3 separate regions of the Homo sapiens genome follow, and all the other regions are linked to region 1. Evidence: fine-mapped expression QTL. A gene starts in region 1. Each other region holds a variant in brackets. All regions are shown on one strand. Distances are between the middles of the regions.

The links. PIP is the estimated chance that this variant, and not a neighbour inherited with it, causes the effect. A credible set is the group of variants that fine-mapping cannot tell apart.
Region 2: its variant is the best candidate, but not a certain one, in a credible set for the expression of ANKMY2 in whole blood (TOPMed, PIP 0.86).
Region 3: its variant is the best candidate, but not a certain one, in a credible set for the expression of ANKMY2 in prefrontal cortex (GTEx, PIP 0.83).

Annotation. Positions count from the first base shown.
Region 1 is chr7:16,640,564-16,651,543 of GRCh38, reverse strand. ANKMY2 (ankyrin repeat and MYND domain containing 2) reads left to right here and starts at 5,790. Exons shown (of 10, transcript NM_020319.3): 1 at 5,790-6,037. The coding sequence starts at 5,971. It overlaps BZW2 (basic leucine zipper and W2 domains 2), which reads right to left and starts at 5,363. Exons shown (of 12, transcript NM_014038.3): 1 at 5,256-5,363. RefSeq lists enhancers at 2,678-3,189, 5,384-5,663.
Region 2 is chr7:16,599,496-16,610,475 of GRCh38, reverse strand. It overlaps ANKMY2 (ankyrin repeat and MYND domain containing 2), which reads left to right. Exons shown (of 10, transcript NM_020319.3): 7 at 711-846; 8 at 5,627-5,755; 9 at 7,967-8,096; 10 at 9,531-10,697. The coding sequence ends at 9,715. LOC105375169 (a long non-coding RNA gene) reads right to left here and starts at 5,651. Exons shown (of 5, transcript XR_007060226.1): 1 at 5,565-5,651. The variant G/A (reference allele first, on the strand shown) is at 4,633.
Region 3 is chr7:16,613,548-16,624,111 of GRCh38, reverse strand. ANKMY2 (ankyrin repeat and MYND domain containing 2) reads left to right here. Exons shown (of 10, transcript NM_020319.3): 5 at 8,208-8,368. It overlaps LOC105375169 (a long non-coding RNA gene), which reads right to left. Exons shown (of 5, transcript XR_007060226.1): 3 at 7,933-8,086; 4 at 6,693-6,736. Among named protein-coding and RNA genes, the nearest start is that of ANKMY2, 27 kb to the left of the region's middle. The variant C/T (reference allele first, on the strand shown) is at 4,738.

The sequences.
Region 1 (10,980 bases):
CTTTCCTGTTTATAATAGTCCCATTCAATTACCTTGTTCACTGAGAAAAACATATAACATTTCTTTTTTCTTCTTAGAAATGACCATAAATCCAGGTTAGTTTGAAAACCATTAAAGTCTTCTGTGTGGATATATAAAAAGGATGACAGTAGAATATCATCCAATAGTAGCTTATGATATATTCTCTACAGTGCTAAACGTTATTATCCCTTATTATTCATCTCTGCCCCAGGGCTTTTCTTGAGATTTATTTAGAAGTCCTCAAAAATAACAGTACACCTGTTATATTTTTTAAAGTTCTCATCTAGCATAAAAATAAGTTGAGATGTAAAAAGAAAATATAATGCTACATCTGACACAAAAAATAATTCTACATCTTAAGTTATTGTTTTCCTACTAAAATATTAATATTTTCAGAATGGAATTAAAGATAGCCAAAGGATTATACTATCTTAAATATTAATACAGGGCATTATTCTTTCTTTTTGTCATTATACTTTTTTCCTTTAATTTTTGAATAAACTTAAAAAACATCAATGGAAACACCTATTGCTAAAAATCAAGAAAGAATAATGAGAACATTATCTTTTTGGCATTTAACCTTAAAGAATGGTTCATTCAATGAGTTATTCAAATCTTTATTTTCAAAATAGATAGTTTACAAATATGACTACCTGAACAATTTTGGCACTCTTCACTTAATACACGCCAAATTTAGAACGGGGCAAATCATTCCACTCGGCACCTAACTGCCCAAAAGATACTTGCTAAAGAGCGCCATGGCCTCAATACACAGAAATGAGTGAGTTAAGAATGAAAAGTATTCTTGTTTATGACCTGCTAAGATTGGTGGATTTCATATTAATTAAATATTCTTGTAAAATCCCAAAGTCTAGGATGACATGTTATAAAGGACATTTAATATATCTAAAACACAATAAAAAATTGTAAAGATCAAAAAATCAGTTTAAAAAATTGCACAAATTAGAAAGTAGGTGTCAGATTAAGTATTCAGCTAAGCAAACACTGAGTAAGAACCTACCAGTCACACCCTGTCCTGGGCCTGCTCCTGATTTTCCTAGACTAATACTTATCCTATCAGTGCTGACATTGCTCGAAACAGTTTTGGTACTCTTTTTTTTTGGAATGCCTTCTGAGTTGGATTATGACGCACAGAAGAACATCAGTATCTCCACTTCATTCACCTCTTGATTTTCTCAGTTAAACTAAATGTATCTGTACCCCTTCTTCAGAATTTTCTTTTCAAAAAAGATGAAGATTAACTACCAGTAAGATATTCATCAATTTGTTCTACAAGCACTGAGTAATGCCACCAACCTTTTACTTTTTGGAGAAGTTAAAATGTGATGTCAAATGTTTATGGAAACGCATTGTTCACAAGACAGTTCTTTGCAGATTTAGGTGTAACTGTTTTAACACTTAAATGAATAATCACATAAGCGAAACTCCAAGTATAGAAAAAAGAACATTTGTATTTATATTACTTTCTTATGTTGTGTTTAAAAAAAAAAGATTTCTTAGAGGCTGTAATACTTCCAAATTTTCTTTTTAAAAACTTCATTATGGAAAATCTCAAATATATCCAAAAGTAGAGAGAACAGTATAATCAAGTGAATATACTCATCACCCATCTTCAACTGTTAACATAGTCAATTTTATCTCATTTATATTCTCATTCAGTCTCTCTTCCTTTCTGTCACAGAATTATATTAAAGCAAATCTCAGCTGTCTTCTCATCCAGTTCTGAAATAATTCTGTTCCTATCTCTAAAAGATAAGTAATCTTTTAAAAATATAACCGTAATCTACTTCCAACTTAAAAAAATCAAAATTTCTTATTATCAAATATCCAGTCAATAAAGATACCTAAGTCTAAGGAAAAAAAGTCAAATGTCAAGACAAACAGTACCCTGAAAGATGTAATACTCAAAAATGCAACAAAAAGGCAGCATTCTCCTAATGTAGAGAGCTGGAAATCAGGGTCTTTAATGGGGAAATCTAAGAATGGCATGCCAAATTTGTAACATGTGCACAAGAACAATTTTTCTTGGTTGATAGCATTCATCAGAATGTCAAGAAGCTTGAGATCCAAAACATTTAAAGACTTTCTGCCTCTGGTTATGATTGTGCGTGCTTAGTGCCACCTCACCTCACATTGCCAGGAAGGATTAGTCAAGTAGGAAAACAAATCCACCTAAAATAACTTAGAAATCAAACTGAATTCAACTCAGCTTGTACTGAGCATACACTAGGTGCAAGACACTGGGTTAAACCTGAGAAACAAAGATAAATTTGACCTAGTTAATGTATACTGTAGAATGAGAAGGGACCAAACAGATTAATAATAACTATAATAGAATGCGATGAGAAAGTGCTTGTTTTAGGTATTTTCATGGAGATTCAGATGAAGAAGCAATGATGTCAATTTAGGGGGGCGGTAAAAGAGGGGTCGCTAGAATCCATAAGAAGAGAGAATTAAAGGCTGCCAGCAATGATACCAGTAGCCATGTTGCATATCAATATCCTCCATGTACAAAGATTTTACTTATAACCCTTGCCAAGAGACATGAATAAATGTATTTACTAGCATGTATATTTCCCTTACTGGATAGAGAGGGAGAGATGAACACAAAAGCTGAAGAAAAGAGGTTTTGTTTAAATTGTGTCTGGAAAGTTGAATAGTTCATCAGATCTGGAGAGGAGATTCAGTGAAAAGGGAAGGGAAATCATTCAGAGGAGGAGAAAAGCAGGAACAAAGGGGTGGAAATTACCGGCAGGTTGGGGAACAAGCAGAGTGGTGACCTTAGAGCCCAGTGTGTGGGAGGGCCCAGATGACTGGAAATGCCTGCTGAGACCATGGATGGATTGGAACCTTCCAGGCCAGACCCAGCCCTCTATTCTGTGGCCAGCAGAGAGCCATTCAAAGAATGATGGGTGCTCAATGTTTATTGAACTGGTAGTTCCCTGAATTAGCTAGATGGAGACAGGTGAGAGAGAAGCAGGCTACTTAAGATGCATTGCAATAGCTCTAGAGTGGTAGATATGAGAGGACACATACAACATTTCAAACATTTCAGAAATCATTATTCCAATTCTGACTTGACACTTCCTAATATGGGATTGTGGGCAAATTATTTCCCTTACTTTCTGTCCTCTTATTTGCAAAGTGGGTATAATATTGGCTCATTCCTGGGTTGTCATAACACTAGAATAATTCTATGCAAAGCATCTGGTAGAATATCTAGCACAGACTAAATACTCAATATGAAGTAGCTATCTTATTATCAATAAAACTTCTTTGATGTGAATCTGTTTTAATATGCTCATTATCTAATCTTATCCCTACATTAAATATTTACACCATACAAAACTACTAATGTAATCAATCCATCTAATGAACAGTACCCATTATGAATCTGTTTCTAGAAATGTAAACTGAACATGATTTATTTGCATTTCTAGGTAGATGTTAGATTCTCTTTCAACGTTATTGTCTCTAAATTCACTGGTCATGTATTCAGAGAGCACTAAATACCAACCAAGTGTCATAAGGCATCAAGAAAATAGATAGTAAGCTGCTATCCTCGAGGAACTGACAACCCCAGTGAGACAAACAGGTGTGACCTTCAAGTAACCATGGCCCAGATTTGGCACAAGAGATGGAAATACTAGCAATGAAGTACCCAATTATGTGTATGCATCTGCTGGTAAGATGCTAAATCACATGTTCCAGGAGGTTACCACTCAACTGTTTTTTTAGGTTTGTGGGTTTCTTCCGCATGATACTATGTTATAAATCAATTGTAACTCTGAACTAACAGCATTACAAAAGATTGGTCACTCTCAGGAGCCTTACTACTTGCTTGAACAGCCACATCATTATTAAAGCATCATCCAACAAAAGTATCTTTGTTATACACTGAGATGAATAATTTCAAACCATTTTCATGTAAGATGTTCTGGCTCAGATCTGTCCCAGTCTTTAATGCTGAAGCTTTAGGGGGGAAAAACAGCTGGAGTTTAGGAAAGATTTTTGCTAAAGGCAGGAAATAATGATAAACATATTCCAGGAGATTTCAGATGTTAGTGAAAGCTTCACGCAAAATAAATGCCTAAGGCCAGAGGAAAATGCATTTCGCTTTTCGTATGGCGCTATGAGAAGAAACAGTGGTCCTGGGGATGCTTAACAAAAACCACCTACATAATTACTCAAATATTTCTCTTTGACACATACACGTCTCTTTGACACACATATTGAGAGAAACATCAATACTACTCTGTAGGGAAACAACAGTAAAACATAAACACTAATTTCCAAAGAAACTTTCATTGATGATGTAAATATAAATCTGCACCCTGGAGAAATGACTGATTCCCGCATTTTAGCAAGCAAATCTTATTCTGAAATACACACTTGTATTTACCCCCATCTACCTATGGTCGAAGCTCCAGGCTACATATTACAGTTGAATGAAGGTTGGATTAAGAGGCTAATCTAAGGCTATATATAGGCAGCAACACCAATTTAATCTCCGCCCTCTCCAACCTCCCCACCCTCCACTCCCTATTTCCATAAATCTCAAGATCTGAGTTACAAAGAGAACCGAGAACTCTAGCAGAGCAAAGAAGCCCTTCCTTCCCCCTCCCACAGGCTGTCTCTCATAAACGAAGTATTAGTGCAAGTGTAAATTGTTTCCAAACATCTTTAACAAGCAACATTGGGCGATCAGGTTTTCTTCTACAGCTTCCACAGAGGCCAAAGAGATGACAAGTAGTGGGGAGGGCGAGGATCACCAGCGTAAAAACTACCTTCTCCCGAGTCTGTTCTCACTGACTCGCTAGTAATGGGGCGCTGTCCTTGCGACCCCTACCTAGCCCAGAGCCCCGGCCCCAGCCTCCCCGGGAGCCGCATCTGGCGGTGCCACGCACGAGACCATGTGCACCCGCCACTTCCCACCGCGTGGCTGGCCCCCGCCCGCCCGCCCGCGGTCCCAGGGTCTCCCGAGGCGGCCAAACGTTGCGAGTCGGAGGTCTTCATCCCAGGGCACTGATACCCCGTACGCGCCGTGATGATGAGGTGGAGCGGGGGCTTCTCCACCGCGAGGCAGGAAGCCGCCCCAGGAGGCACATGCTTCCTCCCCGCCAGCTCCTGCCCGATGGAAACCCCGGCGGGGCGGCAGTCGCTACTCTCGCAACCCTCACGGCGCCCCTTGCCTCACCTGGGCTGCTTCTCACCTGTCCGAGGAGGTAGCGACGACGCGCAAGGCTGGGGGCTGCGGCGATTCGTGCAGCAGCAGCGGCAGCAGCAGCAGCAGCAGCAGTGGCGGCAGACAATGGAGGAGTGAAGGACAGACACATTGACATAGACACACGGAACCCGGCGCAGCCCCGCCTCCCGTACCGCCCCCGTCTCCTAGACCGCCCCCGCCCAGACTGCGCCACTCCCGGGGGAATGGTGGGGGTACGGCGACAACCTGGGGCCTCTGCATGCCCCAGAAAGCCGTCGCTGAGCACATAACTGCCAGCTGTAGAATTTTCAATATTACATGTGGCGAAATATTTGAACCGGACAGGATAGGGGAGCGGAACGTGTAGGAGGAATTTAATTCCCCCCTCCAGCTTTCTGCATTTGGTTTTGTCCTCCCAGGTTGCTCCAATGGCGATCTCTCGCTACCGCCTCCTGCGGCTCCTCCTCCTCGGCAGGGCCAATGACAGGCGGCAGGCGGTGACCGCCGCAGGGCCTGCGGAGACCGTCCGCCTGGCTCGCCCGAGCTCGCCCGCTGTCCGCCAGCCCGCGGGAGGGAGGAGAGAAGCGAAGCGTTTCCGCGGTTGGCTACTCAGTGTCTTGGTCTCAAGTTGCCTCATTGCGGCTGGCGTTCCCAATACAGACGCATCGTTTCTTTTTTAATACTCCCTAAGAAAGGGAATAACCTTCAAGCTGGCGGGAGCAATGGTTCACATAAAGAAAGGCGAGCTGACCCAGGAGGAGAAGGAGCTACTGGAAGTCATCGGGAAAGGTACGGGTGCTGGGCTGCGACGCGGCCGCGGCCAGCCTGGCCGGGGGGCGTGGCGGAGCCCGGGGGGCGCTCCTGGCCTGGGTGACCTTTGGCTGCGGTTCTGCAAGGTTTGCAGCCTGGAACCGGGAAAGAGCGTTTCTCCCTTTGGTCTGGGAAAGGTTGCAGGGGCGGAGAGGTGGGGAGGCAGAAGCAGTGCTGGGACAAGAGGGGTAGTTACAGAGGCTCGGCCTCTAAATCCGCTTTTGGAAACGTACGGATTTCCACGCCCCGCCTTAGGTTAATGCGAGCTTCCCGGGGTGTGGACCCCAGTGTGTGAATTCTTCACTGCTCCCGAGGGATTTTGACCGCGGTCAGTCCTGGTAGTTTCAGGTTCTTAGGCGGGTGTCTAAATGACCCTTTAGACTTCCGCAGGCCGAATGATCTGGATCCTTTGCCGATCCCCGCCCCCGCTTGGGAGTGGAGGGCGCCCTTAGGGAGAGGGGTTCTTCATAAGGGTACAGAACTAGGTCTGTAATTTGCTGCATTGAGACTTCCGTATCCAGGGCCTCCCTGGCTTCCAGAAGCCCCGACAGCCTCAGGAACCCTAGAGAGACAAGGAAATTGGCGAGGCCTCCACACCCACCCCTCGGCCCACGTTGCACAGATGAGACCTTCTAATCGCGCTCCTTCGCGCTTTCTTGTCCACTCCCCCAAGGCGTGCCCCACTTCCGCAGTGCTGAGTCCCAGCGGGGAGCCCCGAGGACGAGCCAGAAGCCATATTTCCCCGGAGTCCCCGAGTGGACGTCCCAGAGGAGTTCCCTGCCGAGTCCCGTTACCTGGCAGGTGACATCAGCGTGACTGCATGCTTCTTCTGCACCCTCACGGTGCAGGGATGGTGATGCGTGCGACTCCGGGCAATTAATGTGGTGATTTTAAACTCAATAATAATATAGCCATGTTTGTCCTCGAATGGCAGAGATGCCAGTCATTGCAGCATAAGGCTTCCCAGTTTCCAGTTTTATTTACTTAGTAGCCAGGCTGAAATGTGGAATCCTAGAGAATAAGGCAGATTTATTCTTCATAGCGACAAGGAAACTCCACATGCGAAGGAGAAAAAATTCCGGTTTGAACTCAACAGGTGCTGATGAGCTGAGCCCACCCGATCTGATCTCAACTATTCTAAGTCAGTCACAGCTATATCTATCAATGATGTGTTCTTTGCCTGGAATTTGGGGATTTGGGTTAGAGTTTAGATTGTTGTACTGCATGGTTCTTGCTGACCTATTTGGCATTTCAGTCTTTCAGTTCTTCCTGTCTCTAGGTAATTTCTCCCTGCCTTTGATGGCTCTGGGATTCAATTAAGCAAACATGCAAGTTCTAGCTGTGTGCCAGGTACTGTGCTGGGCAAAAAGGAGACAAAGGATCAATTCACAATCCACCAGGGACAAAAATTCTTTTAGGCAGGACAGAGCTAGTACATGTCCTCTCTCTCTCTCGCTCTCGCTGTCTCTTTCTCTCTCTCTCTCGTTTGTTTGAGACAGGATCTCACTCTTCACCCAGGCTGGAGTTGCAGCTCTCTGCAGCCTCCACCTCCCTAGTGGCTGGGACTACAGGTGCGAGCCACCATGCCCGGCTACTTTAGAAAGATTTTTTTTTTTTTTTTGTAGAGATGGGGTGGTGGGGGTCTCCCTATGTTGCCCAGGCTGCTCTCGAACTCCTGGGCTCAAGTGATCCTCCTGCCTCGGCCTCCCTAAGTGCTGGGATTACAGGCATGAGCCACTGGGCCTGGCCCATCATGTGATCTCTTAAAAGTGAAAAATAGTGAGCAGTTTTATAAATTGAGTCTTTGAGAGGGGAGAAGGGATTCCTTGGATACATTCTCAGGTGTCCATCAGTATTTATTTTGAAGATTATATAAACCTGAATTAATGTGCATTTATTCTGGTTAGTGCTGTGATATTTCTGGGCTCACACGGTGCATCAAGTTGCATGAGTGCACTGATGCTTTCATCGCTTTCATTGGACCATGCCAATGAGAAAAGAACTGATGTGGACCTAGTATGTGATGCATTCTTGTCAAATGAAGGTCTGTGGGACATCACTTGCACTCATAAAGAAAAGTAATGGGAGATATGAGAAAAACAACCATAGCCAACGTTTATTGACTGTTATTGCAAGCCACACATAATTTTAAGTACTTTACATATATTAATGCATTTAATTTGGATGAGCTAGGAATTAATTTTAAGCTATGACAGTATGAGAGACAGCATGGGATAGTGGTTAACCATGCAGGTCTGGTTTGAAATTCTAACTCATTTACTGGTGATGTGGCCTTTGGGCAAGTGACTTTTCCTGAGCCTCAAGTCCTCTGTGTGAAAAATAGGAATAATAATAATACCCACCTCACAACGTTGTTATGGGGATGAAAGTAGTTAGTATAGTTAAAGCATTCGAAATACTGCTTGTGTTTGTGATAAATATAGTAATCTTCACTTTATAGGCAAGGCAACTGAGGAACTGGGAAGTTAGGAAACTTAGTGTCAAACAGGTAAGTGGCAGAAAGTGGCAGAGCAGAGGTATCACAGGGCCCATAGGTAATAAACAGGCTGTACCTAAAAACAAACTAAACAAAACATGAAACAGTACCATAGCAGTCCATACAATATTCACTTTGAGAGGTCATTTAGTTCTAGCAAAACAACATCTGTCAAGTTAACTCAGTTTTAAATGTTACTGATTTTGTAGTTCTGTGTGCATTAAATTTAAAGTAAATTTTTATTTTATAGTTGAAGAAAGGCCATAAGCAAAGTTTATATTTGTGCCAAAAAGAGGCATTTTTTTTAAAGTGGGTGAAGTGAGTTTTTTTTTTTTTCTTTCATACGTTTTTCAACTTTGAAAAACTCTAGATGAGACAATAAGTTCTAGTACTTTGAACTAACAACTTTTCAGCAAAGTCTAGCCTGGCATCTTGGTCAATCTGAAATAAACTCGGCAAATATTTAAGTGATTCCCATCTGCCAGCCACTGCTCTCCAGAAAGACAGACTCTAAGTGGGGCTTTTTATTTATTAGAATGCCAAGAAGTTCCAGATGAAAATGAAAATCTGTTTCCAACATACCCATTTAAATCATAGTTAATGACAGCATTCATTTAACAGTATGTAAGAGGAAATTGAAATCACTGAACTGTGTTTAACTGGCTTATATGACTTGTAGAGTTACCCATTCTTCTAAGCTTTGATACCTTTTTCATTAATCTCAGAGCAAGCACTATTATGAAATAAATTAAACCTTTTTTAAGGCTATGAGCTAGATAATTTTCACATTACTTCTCTTATTTAGTACCTGAAATTCCTGGGCTTACTGTTGCTAACAAGAAAGTATTATACTTCCTTTTTTTTTTTCATATCTGTGTAAAGGAGCTATGAAACAAGTTTGGATAATAAGGCTTTTTCTTACCAACTATTGAGATACAATAAATTGCACATATTACAGGTAGTACACACTTTTTAATCAGTTTTGATTTAAACATACATCTGTGAAACCATCAGTAAGATCAACATAATGAACATCTTCATCACCCCCTAAAAAGTCCTTATGCCTCTTTGTGATCTGTCACTAACTTCACCCCCATCTGCAGGCAACCACTAACAGATCTCTGCCTCTGTTGATTAGATTTCTCTATTCTAGAATTTTATATTAGTAGAATCATACAATAAGTATCCTTTTTTTGAGGGGGGGCTGGCTTCTTTCATTCAACATTATGATTTTGGGGTTCATATTTATTATGTGTACCAATAGTATGTAGCTTATTTTCTTCTTTTATTTCCAGTGGAAGGATATACTACTATTTGTGCATCCATTCCCATTGATGCCCAATTGTTGTTTCCAATTTGGGACTATTGAAATAAGATCCTGTTCTAAGGTCCTGTGTCGTTAATAATACTTCTGGTGTCTTTATGGTTGAGAAACATTCAAGTCTGCTTATAACCAATTATAGTACAGAGTTCAAAGAAAAAATTAAAATATATGGTTACCATTAGTTGGATGGCTGGACAGGTTATGCAACCTATATGGGCTTCATTGTCTTCATTTTCACAGCAACAGCTCTTTTAGATACTCCCAATTTTATACAGTGCTCTGTAATACTAATTTAAGATCATTTTTTTACAAAGTCTAAAAATAGATATGAGTAGGAGACCTTTTAGAAACATCGCACAAATTCACGATTTCAAAATGCATGTTATAATTAGAAGTCTCCACTATGTGTGTGTGTGTGTGTGTCTGTGTGTGAGACAGGGTCTCACCCTGTCACCCAGGCTGGAATGCAATGGTGCGCTCTCGGCTCACTGCAACCTCTGCCTCCCAAGTTCAAGCAATTCTCCTGCCTCAGCCTACTGAGTAGCTGGGATTACAGGCGTGCACCACCGCGCCCGGCTAATTTTTGTCTTTTTAGTAGAGATGGGGTTTCACTTTTAAAATATATTTATAGCTTTATATCTATGATTATATCAAAATCTATATCCATATGTTCTTGTTTTAAAATTAAGGCACTTTAAACATTTTTACATGATTTTACTTATACGTAAACACTATAACAACTAACAAAGCCAAATAGATTTCTAAATCCTTAACTTGATTATATATTCCTTAAAATATCCGTTTTCGTGGCTTCCAATAAATAATGATTGCAATCCAGCTGGACATAGTGGCTCATGCCTGTAGAGTGACCCCTCTGCACTTTGGGAGGATCCAAGAGGATCACTTGGACCCAGGAGTTTGCCACCAGCCTGGGTCTCAATATAGTGAGACCCCGTTGTTACAAAAAATGTAAAAATTAGCTGGGTGCGGTGGCGTGCACCTGTAGTCCTAGCACCTCAAGAGTCTGAGGCAGGAGGATTGCTTGAACCCAGGAATTCAAGGCTGCAGTGAGCCATGATCATGCCACTGCACTCCAGCTTG
Region 2 (10,980 bases), 41 kb after region 1:
TGTGTTTCAAAATTAAACATTTTGGCAGCAATTGCTGTTGTTGGACTCACATTTAGTCTTTGACAAACAGAGAATAATATTATACTTATATTGAGTGATTATTCAGTTCTGTATCCTTTACTGTGATGTTTTTGTTGTTACCAGCAATTTACAGATGAGGAATCTGAGGTTTGGAGAGGTTAAATAACATGTGTAAGATCACACCGCGAGAAAGTGGCCCAAGTCCAAATTTGAGAATATTTTATGCCCTAGGTCGCAGCCCTAGGTTTGTAATGGCATCCAGGGTGTCTCTGTTACTGTATCTTGGAGAGCTGTGTGTTATGCTGCTTCTCTGACCACCAGAGATCAAATTCTCTTGCATCCTTACCTAGAAAAGGGAACTAAGTCTGAAGGGTGTGGCTCTATGAGAGTTTTCATTCTTAGTACAAATAACTGACATGGTAATAAGTAACTAGCTAATCTGATAACAGTGTTTAGTGTGTTTTATGGTGGTAGTCACCTTTGCATATTCATTTAATGGGCTGGAAAACCTTATAAGGCCTAGCCTAACATATAGGTTGAACAGCAATTTGAACTGAGCCCGTCATCATGATTTGAAGAGACAAAGAAAATCATAAGTAACAGAAGAAACTACTAAAAACTGTTGGGTTCAACTAGGAGAGAATGCTTAGTGATTCAACTCCAATTACGCTTTAAAAAATATCTTTCAGCTTGTTAAAAGGCCGAGCTTCTGATGGCTTTCCAGTGTATCAAGAAAAGATCATTAGAGAAAGTATCAGAAAATTTCCTTACTGTGAAGCTACACTCCTCCAGCAGCTGGTTCGAAGCATTGCTCCTGTTGAAATTGTAAGGCTCCTCTTACCTAAGTTGACTCTATCAGTAAAACCTAATTCCCACCTATTGTATTGTTAAAGGCAAGTTCTCTTTAATATTTATTTTTATTATTTCAGAATATTTTTAGGAACAAAGGTGGAGATAGGTTTGCCTGCCAAACCTGTTCCTGTTTATTTATTTCCCATCTCACGATCCTCTTCTTACCTTATTATGGTTCATAGTTTCATAAACAGGACGTCGCTATGTTGAAATGTAGATGGTTAGGGTAGAAACTTACATTTTAAGTACATCCACTATGTAATATAGGTACACACATGTACACTTGTAGCTATATGAATTATCAGCACAAAGTCATACACTAGATGCAAGTATGAATTGATCACCTAGGGGGATAGTGTCCAGGCAGTGGGGATGTAGTGGGATAAGCCATGGGAAGGCTCATTGTGGTTCCTGGTAACAATCTCAAAGTATGCCTCAGCTTCCTATAATCCACCTTAATGCCTCTGATTAGAAAATGTCCATACTTACAACCTATTTATACTTACCCACTATATAAGTGTATTTTGTTAACTTTATCTGTTATTTAAATGACTTACTATTCATTTGTCATATATTTTAATTTATTTGGCCTTTTCTATTTTGCGACAGAGTCTGTTTCTGTCGCCTAGGCTGGAGTGCAGTGGCACAATCTCAGCTCACTGCAACCTCCATTTCCCAGGTTCAAGCGATTCTCCTGCTTCAGCCTCCTGAGTGGCTGGGACTATAGGTGCGCGCCACCACGCCCAGCTAATTTTTGTATTTTTAGTAGAGATGGGATTTCACCATGTTGACCAGGTTGGTCTCGAACTCCTGACTCAGGTGATCTACCCACCTCGGCTTCCCAAAGTGCTGGGATTACAGGCATGACCCACTGCGCCCAGCCACCTTTTCTATTTTGAATAGGTTTTTGTTTACCCTATCTATACCCATTCATGCTTTTATACGTTTCAATCAAAAACTTGATCAGCTTTTGTCTATCAGGCAAGAAATTGATCCTAAGACCAGTCCCATCCATGGCTTCCTCCCTCCCTCTGGCAAATCTGGTTCCCTTCTCTGTGCCTTCTCTCTGGGTTGTTATGTCATTCTCAGTGTGGAACATCAGGGCTTCAAGTGGGCTCCAGATGCTCCTTTGTACATTAAGAATTCACCTAGTCTGAGCCATAAAATAAACAAGAAAGACCTGAGCAGAAAAGACCATCTCATAAAGCTCATGCATTAATTTGTTCATGTGTGCTCCCCCTATTTTCAAGAGTTTCTTTACTCATACTTTTTAATATAGTTGGCTATTTAGTGTTTATGCTTTTGGAAGAATAAAGTTAGCAAATTATGATTTGTCAATTACAAATGTGTCTTGGCAGCACATATCAAAGCCCAACCAACCATGAATTAAATAGATGAGGGTTTATGTATTCACATATACATAGATGCCCAAAGGTAGGCAGACTAGGTCTGGCATAGTGACTTAAAAATAGTTTGGGGACCCAAACACTTTCTCATCTTTCCCTTCCAATATTCCTTAGCTGTGTAGGTTCTCATATGCATACTTATGATCTCATGGTTACGAGGCATTTGATGTTCCTCCTCCAGCTCACATTCCTATCCCAGGCAGGCAGGAAGAGCAAAGGGGTCTATATCTGGAAAACATAAGCTCTCCCAGAAGCCCTCTGCCTGTGTCACATGACTTTCCTTAGCTACACAGGAGTCCAGGAAAATTTTTTTTTTTGGCTTTTCTAAACACTCCTCCTCTGAACAAAATTACACTTCTGTTACTGAGGAAGCTGGGAGAATTGATATCAGAGAAGCAACTAGCAGTACCTGTTATGTGGGATTTCCAGCACTCACAAATGGTTGCTGACCTTTTACCTTCCTGGGAAAAAACAGAAAAACTAAAACAGCAACCCAGAGTTCTTTAAAAAAAAAAAAAAAAAAAAAAAGCAGGTCAATATTGTGGTCAACAAGTTATCCTAGCTCCATATAATAGAATAATGTAATTAGAGTTTATAGAGTATAATTATTATTATTTTTATTTATTTATTGAGGGGGGTCTTGTTTTGTTACCCAGGCTGGAGTGCAGTGGCGCAATCTCAGCTCATTACAACCTCAGTCTTCCGGGTTCAAGCGATTCTCATGTCTCAGCCTCCCGAGTAGCTGGGACTACAGGCACACACCACCATGCCCGACTAATGTTTCTGCATTTTTAGTAAAGACGGGTTTTCACCATGTTGGCCAGGCTGATCTTGAACTCCTGACCTCAAGTGATCTGCCCGCCTTGGCCTCCCAAAGTGCTGAGATTACAGGCGTGAGCCACCGTACCCGGCCTAGAGTATAATGATTAATGTTTATCCCAGTGATCTGAGTCATCAAGAAAAGGTTTATAATAAAGTTAAGATAGTATTTAATGCATTTTAGAAAGACTTTTCTTTAAACATTTTTGTTCTTTGAGAGTTTTATGTTCTTCTGTCTGGAAGACTTCATCCCAAATGCCTGTGATTGTGCGTATCACAGCCATTGTTTACTGCCTAATTGGTTTTCATATTCTGCAAGTTCTAACCCTCTGAAGTGATGCCCAACCTTTTCCCCGCATACGATGGTTCTCAGGGCTGGCTGCTGTGAGCTTCACTGTGTTGTTTTCTGACAGTGCTAATGCCTGGGCCCTCCTGCTCAGCTTTTGGTTCCCTCTGCTGCTGTGGAACTCTGGCTTCTGCCTGTCTCAAGGCTCAGCACAAAAGAGAATTCGTAGCACTTTCATGTGAAAGCAGACCCAGTCATTATTATTTGTATTCAAGAAGAACATGGTAGTTTCAAAATGAGTGCTACTTTTAAAATACTTCTTGAATCTTTGAATATTTTCTTTGACTATCTTGAGTATACAGAACAGTGTAGGACATTGTTACCAGGTGATATTTTTAAACCTCTATTATGTACAGTTGGTAAGATAATATAAAAACAAATATTCTTAGGAAGAAAAAGCAAATACTCAAATGAAAATGAAAATTATAAAGAGTGTCAAAATGCTGGTTTGGAACAAATGAACAAATTTGAAAAACTCAGAACAAAGAACTATTAGGAGTAGGTAAGAAAAATAGAAACGCTGTGATTATTTTTTGCTAAATAGGTTTTAGTAGCATCGTCTCAGACAGATAAATGCTTACCCTTATAATTTTTTTTTTTTTAAATACAAGGTCTTGCACTGTCACCAAGGCTGGAGTGTAGTGACACGATCTCGGCTTACTGCAACCTCTGCCTCCCGGACTCAGGTGATCCTTCTGCCTCAGCCTCCCAAGTAGCTGGGACTACAGGCGTGCCACCATGCCTGGCTAATTTTTGTATTTTCAGTAGAGTCGGGGCTTCACCAAGTTGGTCAGGCTGCTCTCAAACTCCTAACCTCAAATGATCTGCCTGCCTTGGCCTCGCACAGTACTGGGATTACAGGCGCTAGCCACCACACCCAGCCCCTTATAATTTTCTTTGTAAAAAAAGTTTATAGGCCAGGCGCGGTGGCTCATGCCTGTAGTCCCAGCACTTTGGGAAGCCAAGGCGGGCGAACCACGAGGTCAGGAGTTTGAGACCAGCCTGGCCAACATGGTGAAATCCTGTCTCTACTAAAATTACAAAATATTGGCCAGGTGTGGTGGCTCACACCTGTAATCCCAGCACTTTGGGAGGCCAAGGCAGGCAGATCACAAGGTCAGGAGATCAAGACCATCCTGGCTGACACGGTGAAACCCCATCTCTACTAAAAATACAAAAAAATTAGCC[G/A]GGCGTGGTGGCGGGTGCCTGTAGTCCCAGCTAGTTGGGAGGCTGAGGCAGGAGAATGGCATGAAGCCAGGAAGCAAAGCTTGCAGTGAGCAGAGATCACACCACTGCACTCTAGCCTGGGCGACAGAGCGAGGCTCCGTCTCAAAAAAAAAAAAAAAAAAAAAAAAAAGTACAAAAAATTAGCTGGGCGTAGTGGCGGGCGCCTGCAATCCCAGCTACTGAGGAGGCTGAGGCAGGAGAATTGCTTGAACCTGGGAGGCGGAGGTTGCAGTGAGCCAAGATCGAGCCACTGCACCTCCAGCCGGGTGACAGAGACTCCATCTCAAAAAAATAAAAATAGATAAAAATTATAAATATTTTTTAACCTATTTTAATTTTCCATTGCCCACTAGTAGTAAGTTTCACACATTTGGTTTTTCTTAATACTTTGATTCAATTGCTGCATGTGTGTTTCTTAACAAATTTGGAACATACCAATTATAATGGTGATAATTTATTTGAATTACAAGCCAACATCAAGTAAATGAGTTTAAATATATTGTCTTTAAAATACTTAGATTGTACTAAACTTTTCAGAATTAAGACAGTTAAACATTTTTGATGTGCCCTATAATTGTCTCATGGAATATGAATATTTTCTGGATGTCAGTTCTCAGAAAAAAATTCTGCTCTGGAGTTATTGTCCTAAATCTGAAACGCTATGGGCTTACTGAATTATCCTTATTGGAAAAATACTTTTTTTCTAGATTAAGGGTGTTTTTTTCTCTTTAATTATCTGGACATATGACTGACTTTTCATATGTTTTGTACAGAAAATGGTATATTCTAAAAGATTTTTGTCATTTTGTCTTAAAGCCTGTGTAATCTATAGCCTTAATGATTTCTTCCTTTTTGTGTCACATTGTAGGACGGCAGTGTCCGTGGGCTGATACCTCTGTAGTGTTTCCATGGTGATTTCAGAATTTGTTTTTTCTCCTCTTCATGCCCACTCTAGGGTTCTGATCCCACTGCATTCTCCGTCCTTACCCAAGCCATCACTGGCCAGGTGGGTTTTGTGGATGTGGAATTTTGCACTACCTGTGGAGAAAAGGGAGCAAGTAAAAGATGTTCAGTTTGCAAAATGGTAAGAATGGAGTTCTTTTTATTTCATTGACCTCTGGTTTAGATGCAGCCAAGCTGATGATTGAGTTTTAATATTCTGTAAGAGTGGACATTAGTTTTCTAATAAATTCTAGTAACGAAAATATTCTATTTAATACTTAAAAAGTAGTTTTGGAAAAGAATTAATAGGATCAATATAGTTCTTTACTGTGTCTGTCTTCTGCTAAACTGCCAGTCTTCCTTTGCCTCTTTGCTGATCACCTCATGGAAAGAAAGGATATGAATGAATGAATATGAGAAAATAAGAGAAAGGTTTTCCGTGGGGCACGAGACCAAGGCTGGTGCAGATGTGAAACCTAGAATAGGACAGTTCATAAATATACATTCTTTACTCTTCTGATGTTGACTTTAATGACAGTGTCTTCATCAACATATCCTTGTAAAACTATAGTTTCTGACTGTTACCAGTCTTTAATCCCTATGGACTGTACTGCCCCCTTCTGCCAGAATTATCTTTGTAAAAGGCATATCTGATTGTGTTGTTCTCATATCCAGATACTGGACACATGCATGTGTCCGTACATTCACTTAATCCCATAGGTAGCATCAACTGCCTGTTGACTTTAAGGTTGAAATTCTCCAGCATGTTGTATGAAACCCATTATAATCTGCTGTGACCTACTTCTTCAGCTTCATCTTGTTTAATGACTTACTTCTCTGAACCTGTTTCCTGAATTAAATGAAATTCCAGAATTAAATCAAACTATTTATATTGGTTAATTATTACTGCTTATAAAAACACACTCAAACTCAGTGCTTAAAATGATAATCATTTAGTCTTTCTCTCACAGTTGTGGTTGGCTGTTCTCAGCTGGGGCAGTTGTGCTCCATGTGACTCTCATCCTTCTTGTACTAGCAGGCTAGGCTGAGCATGTTGTCATGGCAATAGCAAAGGTACACATGGGCAGGTAGAAACACAGAAGACCTCTCAAGGACTAGCCTTGAAATTGCCATGTTGTTTCATGCTGTTGGTTGAAACAAATTACATGGCCCAATCTGAAGTCAAGTCTCCTCCCCTTCAGTGCAGAGAACTTTGAAATCATGTGAGAAAGTGTATGAATGCAAGGATGAATGAAGAATTGGGGCCAATAATACAATATATGTATAAGGGCCTACCACAGTGCTTGGCATACAGTAAGTGTTTAATAACATTCATTCCCATCTCCTTTCCACCCCTACTTGCAAAAATATAAGGCCATTTACAAAAACTTCTTGCTGTTCTTGAACATATCATTCACTTCCCTGTTCCTGCATTTTTGTACTAGATATTTTCTCCAGTTAGAATTCTTCTTTCCCATTTTTCTGTCTACCTCGACTCACCACAGCTAGAGTGAGTTGCTGCTTCCTCTATGCCTCCATCACTCTTACATCCTGTACTGTGTTAAGAAATTATGTATTTAGGTGCCTGCCTCTCTCCCTTCTTCCATATCTTTCTTTTTCTTGATGCTAGCTACCTTTGGGACAACTCTATCTTCCTTGTCATTGTACTGTACCAATTCTGGCACATAGCGGGTTCATAATAAGCTATTTGCTAAAGTCTTTGGTAGACTGTTTGTTATATATTCATTATTGTTTTAAAGTAAAGCTACAAACTATAAATCTAAATCAATACAAAGATACTGTGTTAGGCCGTTCTTACGTTGCTATAAAGAAATACTTGAGACTGGGTCATTTATAAAGAAAAGAGGTTTAATGGGCTCACGGTTCTGAAGGTATACAGGAAGCATGGCATGGGCATCTGCTCAGCTTCTGGTGAGGTCTCAGGAAGCCTTCAATTATGGTGGAAGGTGAAGGGGGAGCAGGCATGTCACATGGCAGGAGCTGGAGCAAGAGGAGGTGGGGGAGTTGCCACATACTTTTGAACAACCAGATCTTGTAAGAACTCACTCAGTATTGTGAGGACAGCACCAAGGGAAGGGTGCTAAACTGTTCATGAGAAAACCGCCCCCATGATCCTATCACCTCCCACTAGGCCCCACCTCCAACATTTGGGATCACAATTCAGTATGAGATTTAGAGGGGACAACATCCAAACTATATCAACCACATATTATGGTTTTAAAATAAAGTATGGAAAATGACATTTTTATAGCTTAGTTCTTGGTTTAGTCATAGTTAGGAAATCATACAACCCAAGCTCTGGAAATGAAAATAAACCAACAATTGCTTTCAGGTAATATATTGTGATCAAACCTGCCAGAAAACACACTGGTTTACTCATAAGAAAATCTGTAAGAATCTGAAGGACATTTACGAAAAGCAACAGTTGGAGGCTGCCAAAGAAAAGAGACAAGAGGAAAACCGTATGTATATAAAAACCGAGTTCACTCTGCTTTTTAGTGGAGAGAGAGATGATAGGTGATCTTAACACACTGAAACTGCGTCTTCTCTGGAAGCCATAGGAGCTCAGGAGTGACCGATGTAAGAATCACATTTAAATTTTAATGTGTCCCGTTTTTAAGTTCTTAGGATATAGTCAGCCTGGACATCACTGGAAAACAGAGACATCAAATTCTGAGGGATGTAGCTTATTTCATATTTTACATTCTAGCTTAGGTTACTGCCCTGGAACAATGGGACCCTTAATGGGTATTAACTTATATTCTGCTCATGAAGGATTTTAAAGTCTTTGAATAAGGGAATTAATTAAATTTCCACTAATGGCTACCAGAAGATTTTAAGGGTGGAAGCCTTTAAATTCCTTAATTAAATTTCAGAACTACAGGTGAAATTACAGAGTATATTTATAAATCATTCATTAAATTGCAGATCTAATATACAGATCAAATTTCTACAAGTGTCATAGCAGTGAATTTTGTATTTTTTTTTCTCCATCCCTCTTGAGGTTTTGTGACCCATTTTCATCAGAAATAGTGAGTTGCTTCAGCAGTGATTATCAGATTGGAGAGGAGAACTGCCCCCACCCTCATGCCTCATTCCAGAGAATGTATCATATGTTCTGGGGGAGTGCATGTAATTTGAAAAAGATGCCTCGGTTATTCTGATACCAGGCATTTCTGCCTCCATCTCTCAAGGAACCATATCCGCTTTACTACTGGGTTGAGATATACTCTCAGTGGAATTAAATGGTTTGTACACAATTAAACCATTTATCCTTAAGAGAATAGTCAGGCTTTCTGACTGCCATGCCTTCTCTTGTTTTCTTGACCAAACTTTTTTATTCTATGTGCTAAGGACAGAAAGTAACAAATGTTCATTACTAACACACTATTGAGGGAGAATAAGATTGTCAGTAGAATGGGCACTCCCAGTTGTTAAGCATCATTCATGCACCAAACACTGCTCTAAATGTTACAGACAACTTTATTCTTCACCAATGTAGGATAGCCTTTATTACCTGCATATTATAGACAAGGGAAACAACTTCATGCAGGCAATTACCTCTCCAAGGACATCAAATAAATTCACAGAAAAGCTGTATTCAAATACAGGCTTTGTCAAATCCCAAGCAACAATCTTGATTTAGAGATGGCTTTGGAGCCAGCGGCCTGAGTTCAAATGCTGGTTCTGCTGTTTCACTAGCCAGGAAACTTGCAGCAAGCTACCAAACCTCTCTCTTCTCAGTTTTCTCATTTGTAAAATAACGTTAGCGATGACAGTAGAGATACTAATATACCTCATGTAGTTGATAGGAAGATTAAATAATACATGTAAAGCATTGAGAAGAGTGTCTGACACATGGTAGGAACAAAATAACTTCTTCTTTTTTTAATCAGACGGCAAACTTGATGTCAATTCTAACTGTGTTAATGAAGAGCAACCAGAGGCTGAAGTAGGTATCTCTCAAAAGGATTCCAATCCTGAAGATTCCGGGGAAGGAAAGAAAGAATCTCTTGAAAGCGAAGCTGAGTTGGAAGGCTTACAGGATGCTCCTGCAGGGCCACAGGTGTCTGAGGAGTAAAAGCCAGAGCAAGTGCCAGTGTGGATGATCCTCACCCTGCAAGAAGCTGGAAAACTCCTAGGAATGCATTGTCCTCACCTTGTTATACCTGCGTGGCACCATGGCAGGATTCCACATTTCATAGAATACAGGTTTTCAAGCAAACCCCTGTTGACCATGCCCTAATTTCCTATTGATTTCTGTTCTATAATTGAATGGATATTCCTATGGAAAATTTTTTGTTTCAAAATACAGGAAAAACATTCCTATTACCTTTCTGAGGCTGGCTTTCCAGCAATTGTTTCAAAGGAAAATAGATCCCCTTAAAGAAAAAATACAGGCTTTAGGGAACAAAGGGACAAGCAGAACAGGTGTGGAAGAGAGATTTTCAGGAAGGGAAAAATTTATAGCTACAGAGGGTAGTTAGAAAAATCATAACTTATATGTGAATAAAATACATATAAGCAGCATTTACGGTAGTGGCATTCTACTTATTAAGATGCAATGAAATGAAGAAAGGCTTTATGTTCAAGGACCTTTGCCATAGTTCAGCTAATTGTAGTTTTATATAGAAATGATCCTGAACACTCTGAACTTGACGTAGTCCTGCGGTGATATTCTATCTGCAGTATTTGTACCTCCAGAATGGCAGATCCCTCAGCAGGAACAAAGGCATATTGACGGTTCTCTCAGCGTATGCATTAAAAAAGGTACTTCCTGAAACTTTTGATTCAATAATGACTAAACATACTATGTACACAATTACTGTAAGGCTAATTCACGTGCCATACTCCACCTGAAAGCCTGAGTTATCTTGCTATAAGCTTTTCATGGAGCACTTCCTTTCCAGAAACTGATTTGTAACTCATTTAGAGAATGTCCTGGCGTCGGTTTTTAGCATATGTGGTATTTAAACAGAGCTAGAATGTGATGTCTGAAGATAATGCTGCATTTCTGGGTTTCTTGTGTGGATTTTAAAATAAATTGTGCCTACAAATATAAACAACTCATCTTGTTTTATAATTTGCTGGGGAGTGGCAAATATTAGAGAAGTATTAGAGAACTTAAAAAATAATAGGGAACTTGACAAATATTGGAGAACAGCAAAGTAATAATTATTTTAATATGTACAATTGCAGAACAAAATGACTAGAATTCTCACCTCACTTTGCTGATCAAATTCTATCTTGTGGATTTTGTTTGTTTGTTGGTTTGTTTTTGTTTTGAAATGGAGTTTGGCTCTTGTCGCCCACACGGGAGTGAAATGGCACTATCTCAAGCTCACT
Region 3 (10,564 bases), 27 kb after region 1:
CTTAAAGGGTAATAGCAATGACAAATGGTGCGAAAACACATACTCCAAGGTAGAACTTCAGAGCTCCATAAAAATACATAGAAGAGGAGGATCTGTCCAATTCAAGGGGGTTTTGAGAGAAGTCAGGTTCAGATACAGTGTAAATTAGGTGTGGAGGATAGTAACTGAATATTATGTTAAATTTTATTAGAACATTTTCTTGAAACTACTAATAGAAGCTGCCATTGATTAAGCCAGACACTCAGTTGCTTTATGACAGCTTTTTCTGTTAGAAGAAGTATCCTTATTTTCATTTCAAAAGGACTTGAGAAAGGTATGGCCTTGTGTAAGCTTCGGAGAAATATTTTAACTCCCGTGTGTACAGGCCCCAAGTTGCCCCATCTCAGTTCTGAGCTAATTTTGAGGGTGTCACTGCAGGGGGAAAGAACACTAAAGTAGGAATCTGGAGACTTGAACTTTAGTTCATGTGTGCTGATAATTAGTTATAGGATCACGGGCAAATTCCTTTACCTCCATAGGCCTCAGTTTTCTGATCTGTATGCAAAGAAGCAGGGGAATTAGGTGATCTCTGAACTTCTATTTAACTGTACAAGTTTTCATTATATCCACAATGTAACAAAATATTGCTCAGATACAGGTAAAAAAATTTCCCAAGATCACAGGTCTGGAAATGGAGGAGTCTCTTCTTTCAGGCATTAACACAATGCTCCTTTCTTTTTCTTAACACTACAATACTAACAAAATTTTTACTACAGTAAAAATTGTTTGCAATCCTATCCTAAAATAAGAGTAATGTTTTCATTCCATTTTAATATATTTAACTGATTTCACAGACAGAAAATTACATTGCACCCTTCCAGTTGTTACTGTATTTTCCAAATAATTAGCCTTTAAAAAAGCTCATTCTCCCCTTTTTGTTTCCTTCAAGTGGATCAGTATGTATACATGCGTACATACATACATAAGATTTTTGTCATTTTTTAAAAATGCCACCCATCACACAGCAGATATTCCTTGTAGCTTGTTTTCTTCACTTACTAATACATCATGGAAGTTCCTCCCATCTCAGTAGGTGTAATTCATTTCCTTCAACAGCTATATGATACTCCATGATATAGATGTTCCACAGTTCAGTTAGCTCTCCCTTATTGACAGATTTTACAGTTTTTTAACCACTTTTCTACAAATAATGTAATAATCATCCTTGATTTTCTATGTTTTACAAGTTAGTACTTGAATATTTTTTACATGTTAGAACTTTAATATCTCTAAAGTATTTCTTAGAAGTAAAATTGCTGAGACAAAGGATATAGAGTTTTTATTTTTATTTATTTATTTATTTATTTATTTATTTATTTATTCATTTATTTTTGAGATGGAGTCTCGCCCTGTCGCCCAGGCTGGAGTGCAGTGGCCCAACCTCAGCTCATTGCAACCTCCGCCTCCCGGGTTCAAGTGATTCTCCTGCCTCAGCCTCCCAACTAGCTGGGATTATAGGTGTGCGCCACCACGCCTAGCTAATTTTTTTTGTATTTTTAGTAGAGATGGGGTTTCACCATGTTGGTCAGGCTGGTCTTGAACTCCTGACCTTGTGATCTGCCCGCCTCGGCCTCCCAAAGTGCTGGGATTACAGCCACCACGACCAGCCTAGAGTTTTAATTTTAATGTAAGTCTAGATTCCTTTCCAAAAGGGCATAGTAATTCACAGTAATATCCTCATCAGAGCTGAGTATTACCATTCTTTGATTTTTGCCACTCTGATAGTTAAAAAGATGGTACATTGTGAACTTACTTTCCCCTCATTATTTATGAAATTAAGCACTTCTGTTGTTGGTAATTTGTATTTTCACTTTTGTGGATTACCCACTTATACTCTTTATTCATTTTTTTGTGGGGGGATGCCCTTTGTTATTGCTTTGAGGAGCTTTATGCATACAAATCCATTATCTAACAAATGTGTTTCAAATATTTTATGCCAGTCCTCCTCTTCCTCCTCCTCCTCCTTCTTCTTCTTCTTTTTATTCCTCTTCTTCCTCCTCCTCTTCCTCTTCTTCTTCTTCCTTCTTTCTTCTTCTTCTTTTTTAACTTTATGGAGACCTTTACCATAGGAAATTTATTTATTTATTTATTTATTTATTTTTTTGAGATGGAGTCTCACTCTGTCACCCAGGCTGGAGTGCAGTGGCATAATCTCGGCTCACTGCAACCTCCACCTCCTGGGTTCAAACGATTCTCCTGCCTCAGCCTCCCATGTAGCTGGGACTACAGGTATGTGCCACCACACCCAGCTAATTGTTGTATTTTTAGTAGAGATGGGGCTTAGCCATGTTGGCCAGGCTGGTCTCGAACTCTTGACCTTAGGTGATCGTCCCACCTCCCAAAGTCCTTAGGATTACAGGCATGAACCACTGTGCCCGGCAGGAAATTTATTTTTAAGTAGTCATATTTTTTCTTTTATAGCTTCCGTGTTTCTTGTTTTGCTAAAAGTGGGCCTCTTGACCAGGAGTTACATAAGTATTCTCCTAAATATCCTTCAGTTATTTTTTATGATTTTTTTGGTACATCTAGAATTTATTTGTTTAGAGTTCATTTCCCCCCAGATATATAGCTAATTGTGATGGCACCATTTATTACACCAGCTAACATTTTCCTACTAAATTGAAATACCACCTTTGTGGTAAGTTAAATTCTCTTTTACTAAATGATTATATAATTATTTGCAGAGAATTAACATTTGTATGAGGTTAGGACTTTCCATCCAATTACACAGTACACTTTTACATTTCTTTTAGGGGAGGGGACTGACTTTTGGTCTTTCAGTAATATTTAATTGGTTCCTTCATATCAATCCTTTCTTTCAAAATTTATTTCTTAGTAATTTGTGGTTACTGTCCACATGGTAAGAATTTGCACTACCACCTCCACACTCAGTCACTTCCAGCTGGTTATGGATAATAAAGAGAAAAGCTATTGATTTCTGTATTTTTTTCTTATTTTTATTACAGTTTACTGCGTTTTCTAGCTATTAAACTTTATCTTGATTTCTATTTGAATTTGCTTCGGGCCAAGTAAGAAGAAATAATAGTGATAATTGGCATGTCTTTTTCCTGTTTTTAATGAAAATATTTTTAGCTTTTCACTTTTAATATATTGCTATTGGTTTTATCATTGTATAATGTCACTCTTTTTCTTGTTGAATTCTTTTAGTTCTACTTTTACTGATATTACAGCTATTCATAATTCCTTTTTTTGTCAATGATCTGTTTGCTCATCTGTTATTTTCAATCTTTATCATTTCATTTAAGTAGTATAACTTATAAACATATAGGTGGGTTCTGTTTTGTAATCTAAAATGTTAGTTTCCCTCTCTTAACAGGTATTTAGCTTATGTATATTTAATGTAATTACTGATATATGTGGTTGCATTCCTCCTCTTTTACCTCATTTTTACTCTTTATTTTACTTGACTATTGTTTGTGCATGCATCTGTGTGTGTGTGTGTGTGTGTGTGTGTGTGTGTACACATGTATTTCCCTAAAGTGATTGGCTGGTCAAAACTGTACAGTACCACATACCCCATCCCCAAGGCCCCATATTTACCCATTTAGCAACTTTATAAGATGAAATCCTTATACTTCATTTATTTCTCCACATTCTCTGTTTTTGCCTTGTCAGGCCACAGGTCTTTCCTTTCTGCCTTCTCTGATACTTCCTCAAAACCTGTGCCAATCATACCTGTAGCTGTGGACTTTGCTGAGAGAGTCTAGTATTTTTAGCACAAGCTGTAATGAGAGTGTCATTGACAGGGTGTTGCTTCTCTTTCAGTAATCCATACCACCAGCTGTGTGATTTGCCTGTCATCTATCTTCACCCACTCATATGAACTCACTCTCTTACTGTCCTCTCTCTCCTCCCCTTTGTCTCCATTTTTGCATTTTTGTCTTTAGATCTCTGTTCTCATTTAGATTTTGGTTATAGGACCTTTTCAAATGGGTTACGTAGGTTGTATATTCTTTGACACCCATCATGACAAAACTATTAATACCTTTCTTTCTGAAATGTGAGTCATATTTTGCCTAGCTTTCTGACTCATATCAGAGTTCTTTTCTCTCCGACATATAGAAGTTATTCTACAGTTTTCTAAGTTCTGGTTTTGCAAATGAGAATTCAACTTACTTTCCATTGTAAACTTTACATTTCTCATTCTGGAAGAGCATTTGATTTTCAGTTTATCCTTGAAAGTAAAAAATTTGAAAAGGATACGTCTTGTTGTATGTGTGTGTTCCTATTAATCACACTCAGTGAGCCCTGTAAGTCTAGAGGACTCAAATCTAGTGATTGTAATATGGGAGCAAAATGATGTACTGGCTTCTCCACCTGCAGCATTTATTTTCTATATTAGTAGTATTATTTTATTTATGTATATTCAGAATTTATAAATTTAAAACTAGTAAAATATTTAAGAATTTCAATTACAAACATTTAAACCTAAATGATTAAGTATTTACAAAGATAAACTTTAAACATATTATTCAAATATGTTATTAGCAGATTAATTAAAATAAAATATCAAAATAAGCATTACCTAAAATGAAAAACCTTAATCTGGAAAAAAAGGTAAAGTAATACTATTTTTTCTTTTTAAAAAGGTATAATTAGGCCGGGCACAGTAGCTCACGCCTGTAATCCCAGCACTTTGGGAGGCCAAGGCGGGCGGATCACCTGAGGTTGGGAGTT[C/T]GAGACCAGCCTGATGAACATGGAGAAACCCCGCCTCTACTAAAAAATACAAAATTAGTTGGGCGTGGTGGCAGGCACCTGTAATCCCAGCTACTCGGGAGGCTGAGGCAGGAGAATCCCTTGAGCCTAGGAGGCGGAGGTTGCGGTGAGCCAAGATCGCGCCATTGCACTCTAGCCTGGGCAAAAAGAGCAAAACTCCATCTCAAAAAAAAAAAAAAAGGTATAATAAAGAAATCCTTAGTCTTGTGACAGTATCTTTGTTATGTAGCAATTATTTTTATGTACAGATATTTCTACCTGCTGCCTGCTTTTCCTAATTGTACTAGTTGGAGGACTGATGAGAAGATACAGTTATAAGCTAATTCCTTATTTTTCTCTGACTCCTTTATCTTCAAGTCTTCATATGTCTGGTTCAGTACTTTTGATGAGCTATTTTGGAACTTTTGTGTGTGTGTGTGGAAACACCTATCTTTTTATTGAAGCTGGATGTAGATTTTGTTTTAAGGAAGCATGTGCGGTTTGTCTTCATCTTCTCTGGTTTCTTCACATACAGTTGTAAATTTCCTCACAATTACTTGGGTTGATTTTGATAACTGTGTTCATAACCCACTTGCATTAGATTTGCTTGGTTGAATGTCATTTTTCTCTCTTGAAGATTCTGGAAGGAGAGGTGATCATTTTCTAAACAGAGCACCTTGGCTCATTTCACATTTTTAATATAGACTGCTACTGTTTGACTTTTCAAGACGTATGTACTGGGGAAAGAAATAAAAGAAATACCCACCTCCCCGAATCCCCCCAAAAAGAAAGAAATTGGGTGTTCTGGTACTTAATAAAAGCATAGAGTACCAAAAATGGTATTGTGATCACTATTAAATTCTCTTTTCAAATCAGGGAAGTTTTCTTTTATCATTTGTTTAATTCTCCATCTATTCCTTTTTTTCCTTTGAGATGTCTGTTAATTTTCACTATTAGATTTCCTGGATTTGTTCTTTAGCTCTTTCATCTGTTGTATAATGATTTCTATATCTGAATTTTTCTGTTTTGAGATATTTCATCCACTCGATCTTTTTTGTTTGTTTTGTTGAAACAGGGTGTCTGTTACCCAGGCTTGAATGCAGTGGTGTGATCAAAACTCACTGCAGCTTTGGCTGGGCATGGTGGCTCACGCCTGTAATCCCAGCACTTTGGGAGGCTAAGGCAGGCAGATCACCTGAGGTCAGGAGTTTGAGACCAGCCTGGCAAACATAGTGAAACCCCATCTGAAAATACAAAATAGATTAGCCAGGTGTGGTGGCACACACCTGTAGTCTCAGCTACTTGGGAAGCTGAGTCAGGAGAATTGCTTGAATCCAGGAGGCAGAGGTTGCAGTGAGCCAAGATCACGTGACTGCACTACAGCCTGGGCAACAGAGCCAGACTCTGTCTCACCCAAAAAAAAAAAAAAAAAAAAAAAACACGCTCACTGTAGCCTCCAACTCCTGGCCCCAAGCAATCCTCCTGCCTTAGTATCCCAAGTAGCTGGGACTACAGGCACATACCACTGTATCCAGCTAATTTTTTAAATTATTTGTAGAAACGGGTTTGTGCTGTGTTACCCAGGCTGGTCTGCACCTCCTGGGCTTAAGCAATCCTCCTGCCTCAGCCTCCCAAAGTGCTGGGATTATAGGCATGAGCCACCATGCCTGCCCTTCATCCTCTGTGTTACTAGTTTAGTTCTCAATAGTAACCAGGATCACCTCTTTCAGTTTGCCTGTTAATTTTTAAAATTTGAATCTCTCTGCGGCTCTTGAAAGTCTATTTATATATTATAATTGAATCTGCTTAAGTGCATTTATTAGCTGTAGTTGTGGTAGTTATTGTTATGGTAAATGTTACCCACACACTTTCAACCCAAGAAGCCCTCTGTTGGAGGCATGGCGTAGTCTTCAGAATTGCTGGATCCCCATACGTACCTTGTTCTGTACCTCCCAGGAAGTCAGGTAAAGCTGATAGGGTCCTGGATCAGTGGAAGAAGAAAATTTAATGTCTCAATTAAGACATTAATTAATTACTTTAGAAAATTATCACTCTCCTTATAGAATCTTCAAGAAGAGAGAAAAATGACATTCAACCAAGCAAATCTAATGCAAGTGGGTTATGAATACAGCATCAAAATCAACACAGGTAACTGTGGGGAAATTTAGAAATGTGTATGAAGAAACCAGGGAAGATGAAGACAAACTGCATATGCTTCCTTAAAACAAAATCTACATCGAGCTTCAATAAAAAGATAGGTGTTCCCATAAAAAAAAAAAGTTCTAAAATGTCTCATCAAAAGTATTCAACCATTTAATTGAGACATTAAGCTGGTTTGGTCAGCAAACCAGCTGAGGCACAAGGATGAAGCCTGCCACTCCTGGGTTCTCCCAGGAACTTTCAGGGACAAGCAGAGCCCTCTGCCAGCCTCAAGCGCCAGCGTCCAGCTGGCCCACAGTGCCATCCCCACGCAGGTCACCTGTTGTCGGCAGGATCAAGCAGGCGCTCCCAGGACCAAGCACAAGCAGGCAGGGGCCATGCAGGCTACCCAGGGGGAACCACTCTCCGGGAGCGGGGGCCATGGCGTCTGCACGCTCTCCCCAGGCGCGCCTCCGCTGGTCCCCCAGCCCTCATCAGGCAGAGCGGAGGAAGAAGTCTCCTCCGGAGATCCAGGAAGAGCCTGCGCCCGCCCTCCTGTGTGCCCTGTGGCTTCTGCCTGCTTGCCCAGAGTGGCCACTGCTTTGCTCCAGAGAGGTAGTGGAGAGGGAGCTAGGGAGGGGGGGGCGCCGCAGGAGCACACTTGCAAACCAGCAGCTTCGCTAGGGAAGAATTTGCTTTCATAGAACCATTTTTAACTAGAGATGGCTTAGAGAAGTGGCTTGGAATTCTATGCAAAGCCACGATGTGGATTCCAAGCTTATGGGAGCGAAAGCCTTTTCTCTACATTTCACAAAGAGGGCAAGCTTTTCTCAAATTTAGGGGGTAGGGGATAAGGGGGAGGGGGTTTAGTTTAATATTATCATTATAGTAAGAACAATACTTTATATGGAGTAAATTTAAATTTTGTGTAAATACAACTGGATGTGATTAGGGAAACATGAGCATCATTTGCGTAGGCTGGGAAGAAGAGACATTTAACTTACAAGCAACTGTTAGAAAATACTTAAGGTCTCTTACAAGTTGAGCAGTGCTTTCTTTTGTAATCCACATAATCTTCGTATGTATTTTGGATTCTGTGTCTTTCAAAGATTGTTTATCAACTTTACAAGGAATGTTTATAAATGTTCTCTAAAATATTTTATCTCTCCTCCTCCTCCTCTACTCTCCTTTCCTGAAAAATAAAGATATTGGTGCATGTTTACATCACAAAAATAGCAACATAATTAATTTTAAAAACCAGATGTGTTATTTTTAATACTAAAACTACAACTTTTCTATTTTTCTATGAAAAGGTCAACATGATTGTGTGACCATAATCAACAATTTCTTTCCTCGAGAGAGACTGGATTATTACACTAAGCCCCAGGGACTGGATAAAGAGCCAAAACTGCCCCCAAAGTTGGCAGGCCCGCTGCACAAAATTATCACCACAACGAATCTTCATCCTGTCAAGGTAGTGTGGTGTCTACCGTATTTGCTTTTTATGTAAATATTGCTTCAGAGTTTAAACTGCTTTTATTATACAGGATCATAATTGTCTTGGGGTGGGTTTTGTAGTTGTAGAGCTTGCAGTGGGCTCTTTTGGCCTGTTAATTTATTGAAGGAACACTCTCCGTTGAAACCTGGAAGTGAGTGAGCGAGAGAGAAACAGACTAAACCATCAGGAAAAGCCACGCAAAGAGATGGGTTTGCTGAAGCCTAGCTTCCACCTCATCCCACCGGGAGCTCTGGAGTGTGAGTGGCTCCAGAGAGGCAAAGGAATTCTTTTGTATTCATCAGTCTGTTGTTGGGTGGGGCCTGTCTCCAGAGGGAAAGGACAGCCTCCCACATAGTACCAAGTGAGGTGGCTCCCTTTCAATGAGGGTAGTCCTCTGGAGAAAAGACCATAGTAGCTGACCCTGAGAGCCCCGGGGGCCTGGTATACAGGCCTGGTAAAAAGGATGTATGTGGGGGCACTAACAGCATCTATTACAATAATTGTCTTTCTAAGAAAGATTCTGAAATGTAATCATGAGCACATTTTTAAACTAAGTGGCTATTTGATGCCTTTAAATAACATAGTTCTTCCAGTAATTCATCAAATCAGATTTTCAAATTTCATAGGCCAACACATAAGTTCAAATGGCTTAACTGGGAAACTTCAAGAGCTATTCTGAAATATTTCACTGCTATTGTCTTCCAGATTTTAAAAATACAGGCTTTTGCTGTTGTTGTTTACACATAATTTTTTCAAAAAAATCCAGCTAAACAAGTATAATTTCCTCAATAATCATCACAGAAAACTACACAGCTACATGTGTGCTACAGTGATGAGGTCCTATTTCAATTTCAGTATCTATCACATGCTTTTACTCATAAAGATTTGATAGTAGTTCAGAGCTGTTTAAGTGAGCAAGATACTAAGTTGTGTCAAAAGTTAAGGTTCTTCCTTAACATAAGGCGTTACTATCATGTAGTAAAATAGATTTCCCCAGAAGTTTATTACGAAAGAAGAATCTGTGGAGTCTGCTGAGCATCATGAAAATGAGTGGACAGTTCTTATAAGGTGACTCTTCTGAAGACTGACACTCACTCAAAGATATAAGATCCAAAATGTGTATAATCTTATTACTTTGTTGATGCATCCCTGTGCATCTTTCTTGAGTACTTGAAGGTTGAGAAACAAACCAAATTTACTCATTGTGTGTTCCTCCACCCAAATTAATTTTCTAGGCCCTTAAGAGAGATGACAAACTAGTAGATACCTTTCCCATCAGACAGAAGAGTGGAATCTGCTATTTTTATTTTAGAAAACTCAGAGTTTTTCTTAATATTCTGGAAGAACTGCCAGAGGCAACACTTGTGATACTAAGTGGGCAAATTCAGTTGTGAACTGCATACTCATGTTTCTAGTGGAGATTACAGAGGGCTTAGAATTTAACCTTTAAAAAATATGTATTTTCTTCTGTGTTACTGTTTCTCTCCCTCCCAGCATACCTAGGGAAAAGAGAACTCCCAAGAGAAGCATTGACCTCTGTCCATGGCACTCTCTCAGGCATGGGCTGGCTGGGATGGGGAGACAGGTTTCTGTCAGGGTACAGTATTTCTCAATGTAGAGAATGTGTGTGGTTCTGTAAGACTCTTGTTCCTCCACTGCCTGAGCAATACAGGATATTCTGGCTTAGACTGACTTGAAGAAGTTCCCTGTACTTTTCTGATTCACTGTCTTTCATATCTATGTTTCTGCCTCTTCAGATTGCAGTAAGGGTTTGTGGAATTTTTTTTTTTTTTTTTTTTGAGATAGGGTCTTGCTCTGTCGCCCAGCCTGGAGTGCAGTGGTACAGATCTCGGCCTTCCAGGTTAAAGCGATTCTCCTGCCTCAGCCTCCTGAGTAGCTGGGATTACAGGTGCCCACCACCACGCCTGGCTAATTTTTGTATTTTGGGTAGAGATGGGGTTTCTCCATGTTGGCCAGGCTTATGGAATAATTTTTTATGTTTACTTGGAACCCAGTCTTTCAGGGTTAAATGTCCTAATAATTATTAATACTCTACCTTCAGTTATCTTTGAAGGTATATATTTTAAGTAAATTAGATTGAGGGCATAATTATGCAGACAATAATTTGTAAAGGTATATAGTCTGAAATAGACTACATAATATTTTTTGGAG